Regions from separate parts of the Homo sapiens genome. Here region 1 is linked to region 2. A link means that fine-mapping ties the variant in region 2 to the expression of a gene that starts in the linked region. Tissue or cell type: whole blood. Region 2 holds a variant in brackets; the other region holds the start of a gene. All regions are shown on one strand. Distances are between the middles of the regions. Region 1 holds the start of FAM110A (family with sequence similarity 110 member A). Region 2 overlaps ANGPT4 (angiopoietin 4).

Region 1 (5,374 bases), 46 kb after region 2:
GAACAGCAGTAATTACCTTATATCACAGAGTTGAGGGAATTAAATGAGTTCATACTTGTAAAGTACTTAGAACATAGTAAATGCTCAAGAGGTGTTAGTGATTTTTATTCTTTGGTGAGGGGGTGGGAGGTGTGGTTTCCAAAGGTTATAATTTTCATGACATTCTACACCCAACCCGCCCCCTTCCTCCCACCTGCTTCTTTCTTTCCCTTCAGCAGAAGCCTGGCCTAGATTTGGGGAGGCCCTTGCCTGCCCCAGAGGAGATTGGGAAGGCTCCAGGCAGTGGCAAGGGGCCAGCCAGCAGGGCAGCCCCAGCTCAATTTCAGCCCAGCTGTCCAGGTCAGGGACACCCAGCTGGGCCACCTCCAGAGCCACACCAGGCCCTGAGCTATTTCTGGAGGCCTCCCAGACGCTGGTGCCCTGGCCTGCCCAGGAGTCAGCCTTGCTCAGGGTGGCCTTGCACTAACATTAGGAAGGGAGAAGGGAGTAGGCTGTGGAATGGGTGTGGATGTGGACATCTAGGCCCACTGATACCAAGTTGATCTTCTAGGCCTAGGTCTGCACTTGAGGTTGCAAAATGGGGATGAAGGATTTTGCAGTGAGGACAGAATGGAAGATAACACATGCAAGGTCTTGGGGAAGGGCCTGGCACGCAGGATTAGAAAGGGGAGGGGGAGGCAGATCCACAGCCAAGCCCACTTCCTATCCTAGACTGCCCTCTGCCCAGGCCTGAGTGCACCATCATGACTTCTTAGCTCAGCCCAGAGACTGAAGAAACTTACTCAATGTCACAGAGCAACTCAGGGACAGGGCAGTGGTTTCATGATTTATAAATATGCATATATATACACATATATACATATATACACACATACATATATATACATATATGTGTGTGTGTATATATGTGTGTGTGTATATATATATATAGAGAGAGAGAGAGAGAGAGAGAGAGAGAGAGAGAGATGGGAGGACTGCACTTCATGAAGGCTGTGTGAGTTAACCTCCTGCCTGCAGAACACACAAATGGTCCATGAACGTTAGTTTCAGTCTTGATTACTGAGGTTTTGGGCATCCCTAAATTTTGCACTGGCTCAATTGCCTCAGCCCCTGCCTTGCATCACAGTGGGAGAAGATGATACATTTGCTAATAAGTAAAAAAACCAAAACATGCAAGAACCAGAGCAGGGCTTATGAAGTCAATAAATAATATTTGTTGAAAGAATAAAAGAAAGCCTTGTTTTCTTTCTGAGTCCTCGGAGATCCTGTCCCCCAAAGCCAGGGGCAGGCTCCAGAGGAGAGAGGATATGTAACTCCCTTATGAAGAGATTGAAGACTCTCAAAATGCATGATTCTGTGTGTCAAGGATTCTAAGATTGAAGCCAGAGGGACTAGGAGCTAACCACTGCATTGTCTGACTGTGACTTCGAAAAGGGGCTTAACTTCTTAGAACCTCCGTTTCCCCACCTACAAAAGGAGACTGACAATAGCAACCTAGGGGGCAGGGGGTGTCCCCAGGAGACACAGCAGGGTCTGGCCTAGGTCAGCTGCTCCACCTGGGGGGATTCCGGCCCCACTCCCAATTCCAAAGTCTCTGGTGACTAGTGGCTTTGGTTTAGGGACTGGCTCTATTCCCTTCCCCAAACTGGGGATGATTCCCAAGAGGCCAGCAGCGGCTCTGGGGGCTGGAGAATCTGCTGCCCCTGCATCCAGCCCAGAAATGTCAGTCCCGTCCGATCCCCAAAGAGTGGTCCTCTGTCCCCGTAGACAGAAAGGCGCCAAATGAGCCGAGTCCAACCCCGGACTGCGGAGAAGGAAAGACAGACGCCCAAAGGGGGTATCCCGAGGACAGTGTGGGGCGCGGGGATATGTGATCCAGCCAGGGGTCTACAGGTCCCTGCCGATAAAACGCTGGGAAAATGACTACCAGTTGCCCGTCTGGGCCTCTCAAGGCAAGTCCAGATGTGACTAGACTAGGGGGCTGCGAGGTGGGGCAGAAAGACTTGAACTGGATTCTCCGCCAGAGCTCGCCGGGCCGGGACACTTGCCTCTCTGAGCCTCAGAGTCCTCATCTGTGAAATGACACGCAGGTACGACGCGGGGAGAAAGCAGACAGCAGACGCTCGGGGAACGGGGCCCCCAGACCCGGGGTCGCACCCGGACCCACCCGCGCCCTCACCTGGAGCCCGCGCTAGGCGTGTCCCGGCTCCTCTCGCGCAGGCTTTGGAGAGGCTGACAGCTCGGACCCGGGCCGGTAGTGGCCGCTCCCAACGACGCCCAGGAGGCCCCAGCCCCGCGTGGGCACCTTTGGGGTCCCCTTTGGAGCTGCCCTCCGCGGTCGAGCTGAGCGGGTGGCCCTCACTGTCGAAGGCCCCCACCGCAGGGAAAGTCCCTGGGGCGCCGTGGAAGGGGAAGTGAGCACGCCGCCCCCCTTCACACCAGAATGGTTCGCCCCGGACTTCCTGATTGGTTCCTCGCTTCCGTTCGAACGGCGCGCCGCCAGGGTTGCCAGGCGACCGCTTAGCTTCCCCCGCCCGAAGGAGAGGCGCTGCTCAGCAGCTCCGCCCGCTCCTCCCAGCCGGCCCCACCTTCTTCCTGCCGCCGCTTCAGCCCCGGCGCCTGGTTCTTTCCCTTCCTCCTCCTCCCTCCCGCGGCCAGCTGGGACTTCCTCTAGGACCCCAGCTGGAAGAGCTCCAGTTAGAGGGCCCTGGCTGGTTCCTAGTCCTGACTTTGACGCTAACTCCCTATGTGACCCGGTGCAAGCCCCTTCCTTTCTCTGTTCTCCTAACTGCATGATGATGAGTGAGTTAATTTTAAAATGTGCATACCCAGCAGTCCCGAAATTTACAAAGGAAATGACCAAAGATATGAGCAAAGATTAATATTGCTCAGCCTTATTCATCATAGCAAAATAATGGAAACAACTTCAATGCCTCTTGAAAGGGATTGGTTATATAATTCCATCCTGTGGAGGAGCTAACTTAATTGAGCTTTTTGCATGCCGGGTAGCTTTACAGAACAAGTCTTGTCAAGGCTTATGACATAACCCTCTAAAAGTACTTTTAATTATTAACACTTTATTTATTTCTTTATCTTTTTCTTTTCTTTTTTTTTTTTTTTTTTTGAGATGGAGTCTCACTCTGTCGCCCAGGCTGGAGTGCAGTGGCAGGATCTCAGCTCACAGCAGCCTCAATCTCCTGGGGTCAAGCAATCTTCCCACCTCAGCCTCCCAAGTAGCTGGGACTACAGGTGTGCACCACCACACCCGGTATTTTCTGTATTTTTTGTAGGGATGGGGTTTTGCCATGTTGCCCAGACTGATCTTAAACTCCTGAGCTCTAGCAATTCTACCAACTCAGCCTCCCAAAGTACTAGGATTACAGGCATGAGCCACGCCACCTAGCCTAATTTTTCCCACTTTCTGATGAGGAATATTATGCAGCCATTAAAAGTGAAGTAGCTACCAGGAGCAGTGGCTCACACCTGTAATCCCAGCACTTTGGGAGGCTGAGGCGACCAGATCACCTGAAGTCAGGAGTTCAAGACCAGCCTGGCCAACGTGGTGAAACCTCGTCTCTACTAAAAATACAAAAATTAGCCAGGCGTGGTGCCACATGCCTGTAATCCCAGCTACTCAGGAGGCTGAGGCAGGAGAATAGATTGAACCTGGGATGTGGGGGATGCAGTAAGCTGAGATCATGCCACTGCACCCCAACCTGGGCAAGAGATCATCTCAAAAAGATAAAAATAAAAGTGAAGTAGCTAGAAGATATTTAAAGATAGGGGGAAATGCTAAGTATTAAACATTGGTTTATTTATGTTTTTTAGAGACAGGGTCTAGCTCTGTTGCCCAGGGTGGAGTGCAGTGGTGCAATCATAGCTCACTGTAACCTAGGTTGAAGCAATCCTCACACCTCAGCCTCCAGAGTAACTAAGACTACAGGCCCGCATCACCATGTCAAGCTACGGGTCTCGCTATGTTGCCCCAGGCCAGTCTAGAACTCCTGGCCTCAAGTGATCCTCCTGCTTTGGCCTCCTGAATTTCTAGGATTACAGGCATAAGCCAATGCACCCCTCCCAAATTTTTTTGAAGTACAGTATGCTTCAAAACACTATGTACAGCATAAATATGTATTAAATACATATGTATATGTGTATAATCATCTATAATCACAGCAGTTAATTTCTTCTTTGTGTTTTTGTGAATTTTCCAAATTTCCAATACTTGAACATGTCAAAAAAGTATATTTTTAGGGGGATTAGAATGAATTAACTCTAAGGGCCTTTAAGGTGAGGAAATTTTATAGCAGTCAGTCTGAATTGCTCAATTTGGAACCAGCTTCTCTGTTTCATTCCAGCTGGTGTCTTTTATTCTTTGTTTGGATTGCCAATAATTGAGAACTTACTGCGTAAACCCCTGGGTGGGCAGGGGAGGGAGCTAATAATATATCAATAGCTAATAATGATTGTACACTCTGGCATGGACACCAACCAAATCAGAGCCAACCACTGTCATAAACAGGGAGTCTGCTGTATCCGTGAGGACCAGCTAAATATCAATCCTGGCCCTGTGCCCTCTGCTACATTGTGTTAGGGCTTTATACACATCATCTCATTGGACTTCATGACTATCTAAGGCGAGAGATCCTGCTATTATTCCCATTATATAGATGAGAAAACTAAGGTCGGTCTGGATCCAGAATGAATTCTCTGATCCACTCTGTTACATTCCCTTGTAAACATGTGAGAACTGTTTGGGAGTAACAGTGAGGTAAGGCAAGGGGGATCCTGTGATCCTATAAGACACAAGAGAAGATTGAGCAGGTAGCTTCAGCCTAGGGAGACTTCTTTTTTTTTTTTTTTTTTTTTTTTTGAGACAGAGTTTCACTCTTATCGCCCAGGCTGGAATGCAATGGCACGATCTCAGCTCCCTGCAACCTCTGCCTCCCAAGTTCAAGTGATTTTCCTGTCTTAGCCTCCTGAGTAGCTGGGATTACAGGTGCCCGCCACCATACCCGCTAATTTTTTGTATTTTTAGTAGAGACAGGGTTTCAGTATGTTGGTCAGGCTGGTCTTGAACTCCTGACCTCAGGCGATCCACCCACCTCGGCCTCCCAAAGTGCTGGGATTACAGGCGTGAGCCACCACGTCCAGCCCTAGGGAGACCTCTTTAAGAAAAAATTACAGATATGAAATTAAGTAATAAAGTGAAGATTTGGTTAGAAAGAGACAAGAAACCACAATAAGGTGGCTCATGCCTGTAATCCCACCACTTTGGGAGGTCGAGGTGGAAGGAGTGCCTGAGCCCAGGGGCTTCAGACCAGCCTGGGCAACAAAGCGAGATCCCCAGCTCTACAAAAAAATTTTAAAAAGA
Region 2 (5,374 bases):
CCTGGTCTGTGAAATGGGAAGTGCCTCACTGGAGTTCAGGCCCCAGTAACTCTCTCCCAGAAAACTCTAGCAGCCTCCTCTCTGGCCTCCCAGCTTTGAGTCTCATCCCCTCCAGGCCCCCCTCCACACTCTGGACAGAGTGCTCTTTCTCAGCCCAGAGAATCTGGGCTCCGCAGCCTGGCACTCACGGCTGACTTGGCCCTGCTGAAATCTCAGCTTCGTCTCTCCTTTTCCTTCCCCACCTTCTCTGTGCCAGCCTTGTTCTACCCTCTCAGTTGCATCATACAGCAAGCAGCCTCCCTGGTCTCAACTCCTCTCTCACGGTGTGAGTCATTTCCTCTCCTTGGCCTCAGCCTTAGTTCCCCTCCCCATGCCCTGTCCTCTGCACACACTAGGGCCCTTCCTACCTTGGGGCCTTTGCATATGCTGTTTCTTCCGCCTGGAACACCTTCCCCTTCTCCACTGGGCAACTCCTGCTCATTACACAGGTTCCAGCTTACTGTCACCTCCTCTACGAAATCTTCCCAGGTCTGACTCATCTCCCTGTCCCCAGCACCTCCCAACCCAGAACCTGGCACAAAGCAGGCAGGCATGCCCACTTGGCCCCTTCTCTCTTTCCTTGCCCACCTCCAACTGACTTTTGTGTTGTCCCTTTGCAGCCTTCATAATGGCAGGTGAGCAGGTGTTCCAGGACTGTGCAGAGATCCAGCGCTCTGGGGCCAGTGCCAGTGGTGTCTACACCATCCAGGTGTCCAATGCAACGAAGCCCAGGAAGGTTAGGGGGCTCCCTGGGAACTGTGGCTGTTAGAGGGTGCTGAGCCAAGGGCTTCCCAAACAGACACCCCGCACCCCATCGGGATCAGGCTTTGTCCAGTATCTGAAATACCAGAGGTGTAGGGGTGGCTTTGACTTCCCAGCAGTCAGGGATCAGATTGTGGGGATAAGCAGAAGTTCCCAAAGTTGGAAGTGCATCCTTAACCAGCATCACTTCAGAGGTGCTTTAACTGGAACAGCACAAAATAGTTCAGTGTTGGTTAAGATGATGATAGCTGATATTACAAACAACCCCCAAAATTCCAGGGCCTTAGCCCAAAGACGTTTCTTTCTAGTTTACATATAGTCCAGTTGAAGGCAGGAGTTGGGGTTCTGCTCCATGTGGGAAATTAGAAACCAGGGCTAATAGAGGTGCCACCATTTTCAATCAGTGGCTCCCAAGGTTGTCCTAAAATTTAAGGTCAAGTCATCCGATAAGAAGGGTGACAGAGAAGAGCACGGATGTCAGGAGGGAGGGTCTGAGAGCCAGGCCTAGAAGGGAAACAACTAGCAGATTCCTACTTCATAATTCCCTTTTTTTTTTTGAGACAGGGTCTTGCTCTGGTGCCCAGGCTGGAGTGCAATGGCATGATCACAGCTCACTGCAGCCTTGACCTCCTGGGCTCGAGTGATCCTCCTGCCTCAGCCTCCCAAGTAGCTGGGACCACAGACACATGCCACCATGGCCTGGCTAATATTTTTAAACATTTTGTAGGGACAAAGTCTCCCTGTGTTTCCCAGGCTGGTCTGAAACTCCTGAGCTCAAGCGATCCTCCCTCCTCGGCCCTCAAATTGCTAGTATTACCATTGCTCTATTTCCTTTCACCCCCTCTTAATATACTAAGGAGAATGCCTCTGTTTGTCTCCAGGTTGTCTTTTACACTTCTCACACACCTGCTAACCTCTCCTTTCAACAAAAAGAGGTCGAGCTTCCGTTTACCTAGTACTGCCAGGCACTGTTCTAAACACTTTACGTGACTCATCTCGTTTAATTTTCACAACCCCAGTTGGTAGATGAGAGACTGAGGCACAAAGAGGTTAAGGTATGAATCTCCATTTTACAAATGAGAGGAAGGCTCTGAGAGGTCATTCCTTACCCACCACTTTAGAAAAATGATGACAATGGGTGGGGAATTTAAGCCTGGATCTTTCTGATGCCCAGGACCCCCAGGCTCACCTGTTGCTCTGTGGGGGTCTGTCTGCTTAGCCACATTTGGGCTAGCACAGGCCTGGCCTCTGGCTACCTCCAAGGGCTCCCAGCTGTGCCTTGCCCACCCCCTCCAGGTGTTCTGTGACCTGCAGAGCAGTGGAGGCAGGTGGACCCTCATCCAGCGCCGTGAGAATGGCACCGTGAATTTTCAGCGGAACTGGAAGGATTACAAACAGGTAGCCCTGCTGCCTTGGGGAGGGGCCATTCTGCTCTGAAACCTGGGGCTGGGGCTGGGCTGTTGGAAGGGGACTGCTTTGCCCTCATTCCTC[C/G]CCCAGAAAAAATCAACTCATCTAAAGCTGACAGTGCACATCTGCTTTATGGGACCCCATCACCTGAATTTGAATGTTCTTTCTGAAAGTTCTGACATATGTTCTAAGAAAAAAAGTTTAGCTTTATTTTTGTTTTAATTTTTTTTAAAAAAATACATATACATTTCTAATTTTTTAAAGAATACAAAGGAGGAGACAGAATAAAAATCCCCCCAGTCAACCCTGACTGCGTTGCTTTAATGAAGTTTCTTGTCTTTTCATACGTCTATGATCATATCTGCAGGAGAGATTCATTAACGAGGAATTGCAGGCCCAAAGATCACATGTATTTTATCAGATGAGAAGCCCGATTGTTTTCCAATTTTTTAATTAGGTTTTGAATAAAGGATTTTTTGCCAAGCTGACTTAAAATACTTAAAAGCTCTTAAAGTTTTCAAAGCCAAAGAAATAGAAAAAGATACCCACAAAGTGATACAGCAGTTCTATTATTTGCGTCTGCTTGCTGTTCATTTAAGGAATACTTAAAAATAAATACCAAATTAAGTTATGAGTGTTTTGAACTAATTGGGCTTTAAACAACCATTAAAATGGCAAGGAGGAATAGGGTGTCCAGGTGCAGAAATACACAAAAGAACCCTGAATATTAACCATCAGGCTAACCCGCATTGCATCGTGACTAAATTGGGGAGCGGGCCTTGGGTGTGCCCCTGTCCTTGGTGCTGAATTCTTGTTCTGTCCAAGGGCATTGGGACATGACATTCCCCACACTCTCAGTTTTACATTTCTGTGTTGCTGAAATCTTGCAGTGGCTGCGCTGTCACTGAACAAAGTTTGCTCTACTATTTATGTAGCTGATTGAAATATTTTATTTAATTTTTGTTGAGGTTTAACGTACATGTGTCTAAGCGCACAAATAAAGTGTAAGGCTCAGTGAGCCTTTAGATATGTATTTAACCACGTGACCACCATTCAGTGCTAGATGTACAACACTCCCAGCACCCCAGAAGCCCACTTTGTGCCCCCTCCCAGTCAATACTCCACCAAAGGTAGTCACCAAATATTACTTTTTCCTGTTCTTGAACTTCAGAGGAATGTGATTTCAATAACTTTTAACAGGCTTTTACACTTACAAAAGCCTTAGTCTTTTCCCTCTAGCAGGTGGAGGGCTCCTACTCCCAGTCCTGCCTACACTGTACTTATGAACTCGATCATTAAGCACAGTGGTTTTGTATAAGTAGCCCTGGAGCCTGGCCCAGCCCAGCTCCTCAGCCAGGGACATGGCCTCCTCCTCAGCATGAGTCTCACCCCACGCTCCCCTCCCTATAGGGCTTCGGAGACCCAGCTGGGGAGCACTGGCTGGGCAATGAAGTGGTGCACCAGCTCACCAGAAGGGCAGCCTACTCTCTGCGTGTGGAGCTGCAAGACTGGGAAGGCCACGAGGCCTATGCCCAGTACGAACATTTCCACCTGGGCAGTGAGAACCAGCTATACAGGTGGGTTCGGGGCCCAGGCCGTTGTGGGGGCTGGGGTCTTCAGCTAGTGGGCGGGCTGGGGTCCCCAGGCTAGTGTCTACAGAGTCTGCTCCAACGGTCAGTCTCTGGGTGTCTCCTGTTCCTACCATCTGTCCCCCATTTGGGTGCACGTCATGGGATCTGGAGGTGGCTGGTTAGCACTCAGCATGTCCTAGCCACTGGGTGGAGTGGAAAGAATGTCATTGGTGCTGCCATCCGAGGAGCAAGAAGGGGTCTTCCAAGGTCAGTCACCCCAAGTCAGCCTTTTTACAGAGACCCAGAAGCAAAAGGAGGTGACTTGCCCAGCCTGTCCTATGCCCTGGGGCTGGGTGGAAGGGTCCCTGGGCCAGAAGTTGAAATTCCTGCACTCATTGTGGCCTTGCTCCAGCTTGCTTTGGGAACTTGGACAAGTCAGTCTGGCTTCTCTGAGCTTCTGCTTCTTCAATAGCAGGATGAGCTTAAACATGACGATCTTGTAAGATCATCAAGGTTTCTCACCCCTTCCTCAGCCTGGTTCTTGGTATATTTGGGAAAAGGAACTAGCATTTATTGAGCACCTACTGTGTTCCAGGCACCATTATTCCATTTAATCTTCCCCACAACACTTTGAAGTAGGCATTACTGTACCTACTTTAGTAATATGGAAACTGAGATGCCAAGTTTAAGTATCCTGCCCAAAGTTACAAGTTAAATGAGCTGGAATTTGAACTCAGATCTCCCTGCTGTCAAAACTCATGATGTCTCCACAACATGATATTGCCTCTCAGAGAAATTTAAGGATCTTTTAGATAAGCCTGGGTCCTGGCTATCTCTGAACCAGGATTCACACTCACAGGGCTGCAAAAAATCTCACGTGTCATCTGGTTCTTCATAGATTCCCTCCATAGTTGCAATCATCATCCAGCCGTGCTGGAATACCTCCACTGGTGGGAAGGTCGCTTCCCCACAAGGAATCTCTGAATGACTCTCTGTCCTCCTGAACTTTATGCCTGATTCCACTTCTGGGAACTTCTCAGTGATATGCCCCCACTGTTTCCTCCAGCTGAGTCCCATTTAAGCCACTGGCCACCAAAGCAAAGGCTTTTTTGAGGCAGGGTCTCACTCTGTTGCCCAGGCTGGAGTGCAGTGGCATGATCACAGCTCACTGTAGCCTTGACCTCCCAGACCTCCCAGGCTCCAGTGACCTTCCCACCTCAGCCTCCCAAGTAGCTGGGATTACAGGCATGCACTACCATGCCCAGCTGATTTTTGTATTTTTTATAGAAACAGGGTTTCCCTATGTTGCCCAGGTTCTGACATCCCTCCTTATGGGATCCATACCAACCTGATAATGCAAGGTCCAGAGCTGAATGAAAAATTCCCTGGATGTCCCCCTACTCCTCACACCTGACCAGTGAGTAGCTACAACACTATGCTGAGTCCCATTTAAGCCACTGGCCACTAAAGCAAAGGCTTAAATCCCGACTCCATCCCTACTTCCCTGAGTGACCCTGAGCAAGTCCCTTCACGGTTTCATCTGTAGAATGGGTGCTTTAGGCATACCTACCTCAAAAAGGGTGTGATGAGGCCTG

What was found. PIP is the estimated chance that this variant, and not a neighbour inherited with it, causes the effect.
Region 1: it holds the start of FAM110A, and the variant in region 2 is the best candidate, but not a certain one, in a credible set for the expression of FAM110A in whole blood (INTERVAL, PIP 0.57).

What each region holds. Positions count from the first base shown.
Region 1 is chr20:830,757-836,130 of GRCh38, reverse strand. FAM110A (family with sequence similarity 110 member A) reads right to left here and starts at 2,416. Exons shown (of 2, transcript NM_001042353.3): 1 at 2,180-2,416. RefSeq lists an enhancer at 400-499 and a silencer at 2,016-2,165.
Region 2 is chr20:876,572-881,945 of GRCh38, reverse strand. ANGPT4 (angiopoietin 4) reads left to right here. Exons shown (of 9, transcript NM_015985.4): 5 at 660-775; 6 at 2,098-2,199; 7 at 3,619-3,785. Among named protein-coding and RNA genes, the nearest start is that of ANGPT4, 37 kb to the left of the region's middle. RefSeq lists a silencer at 2,903-3,103. The variant C/G (reference allele first, on the strand shown) is at 2,293.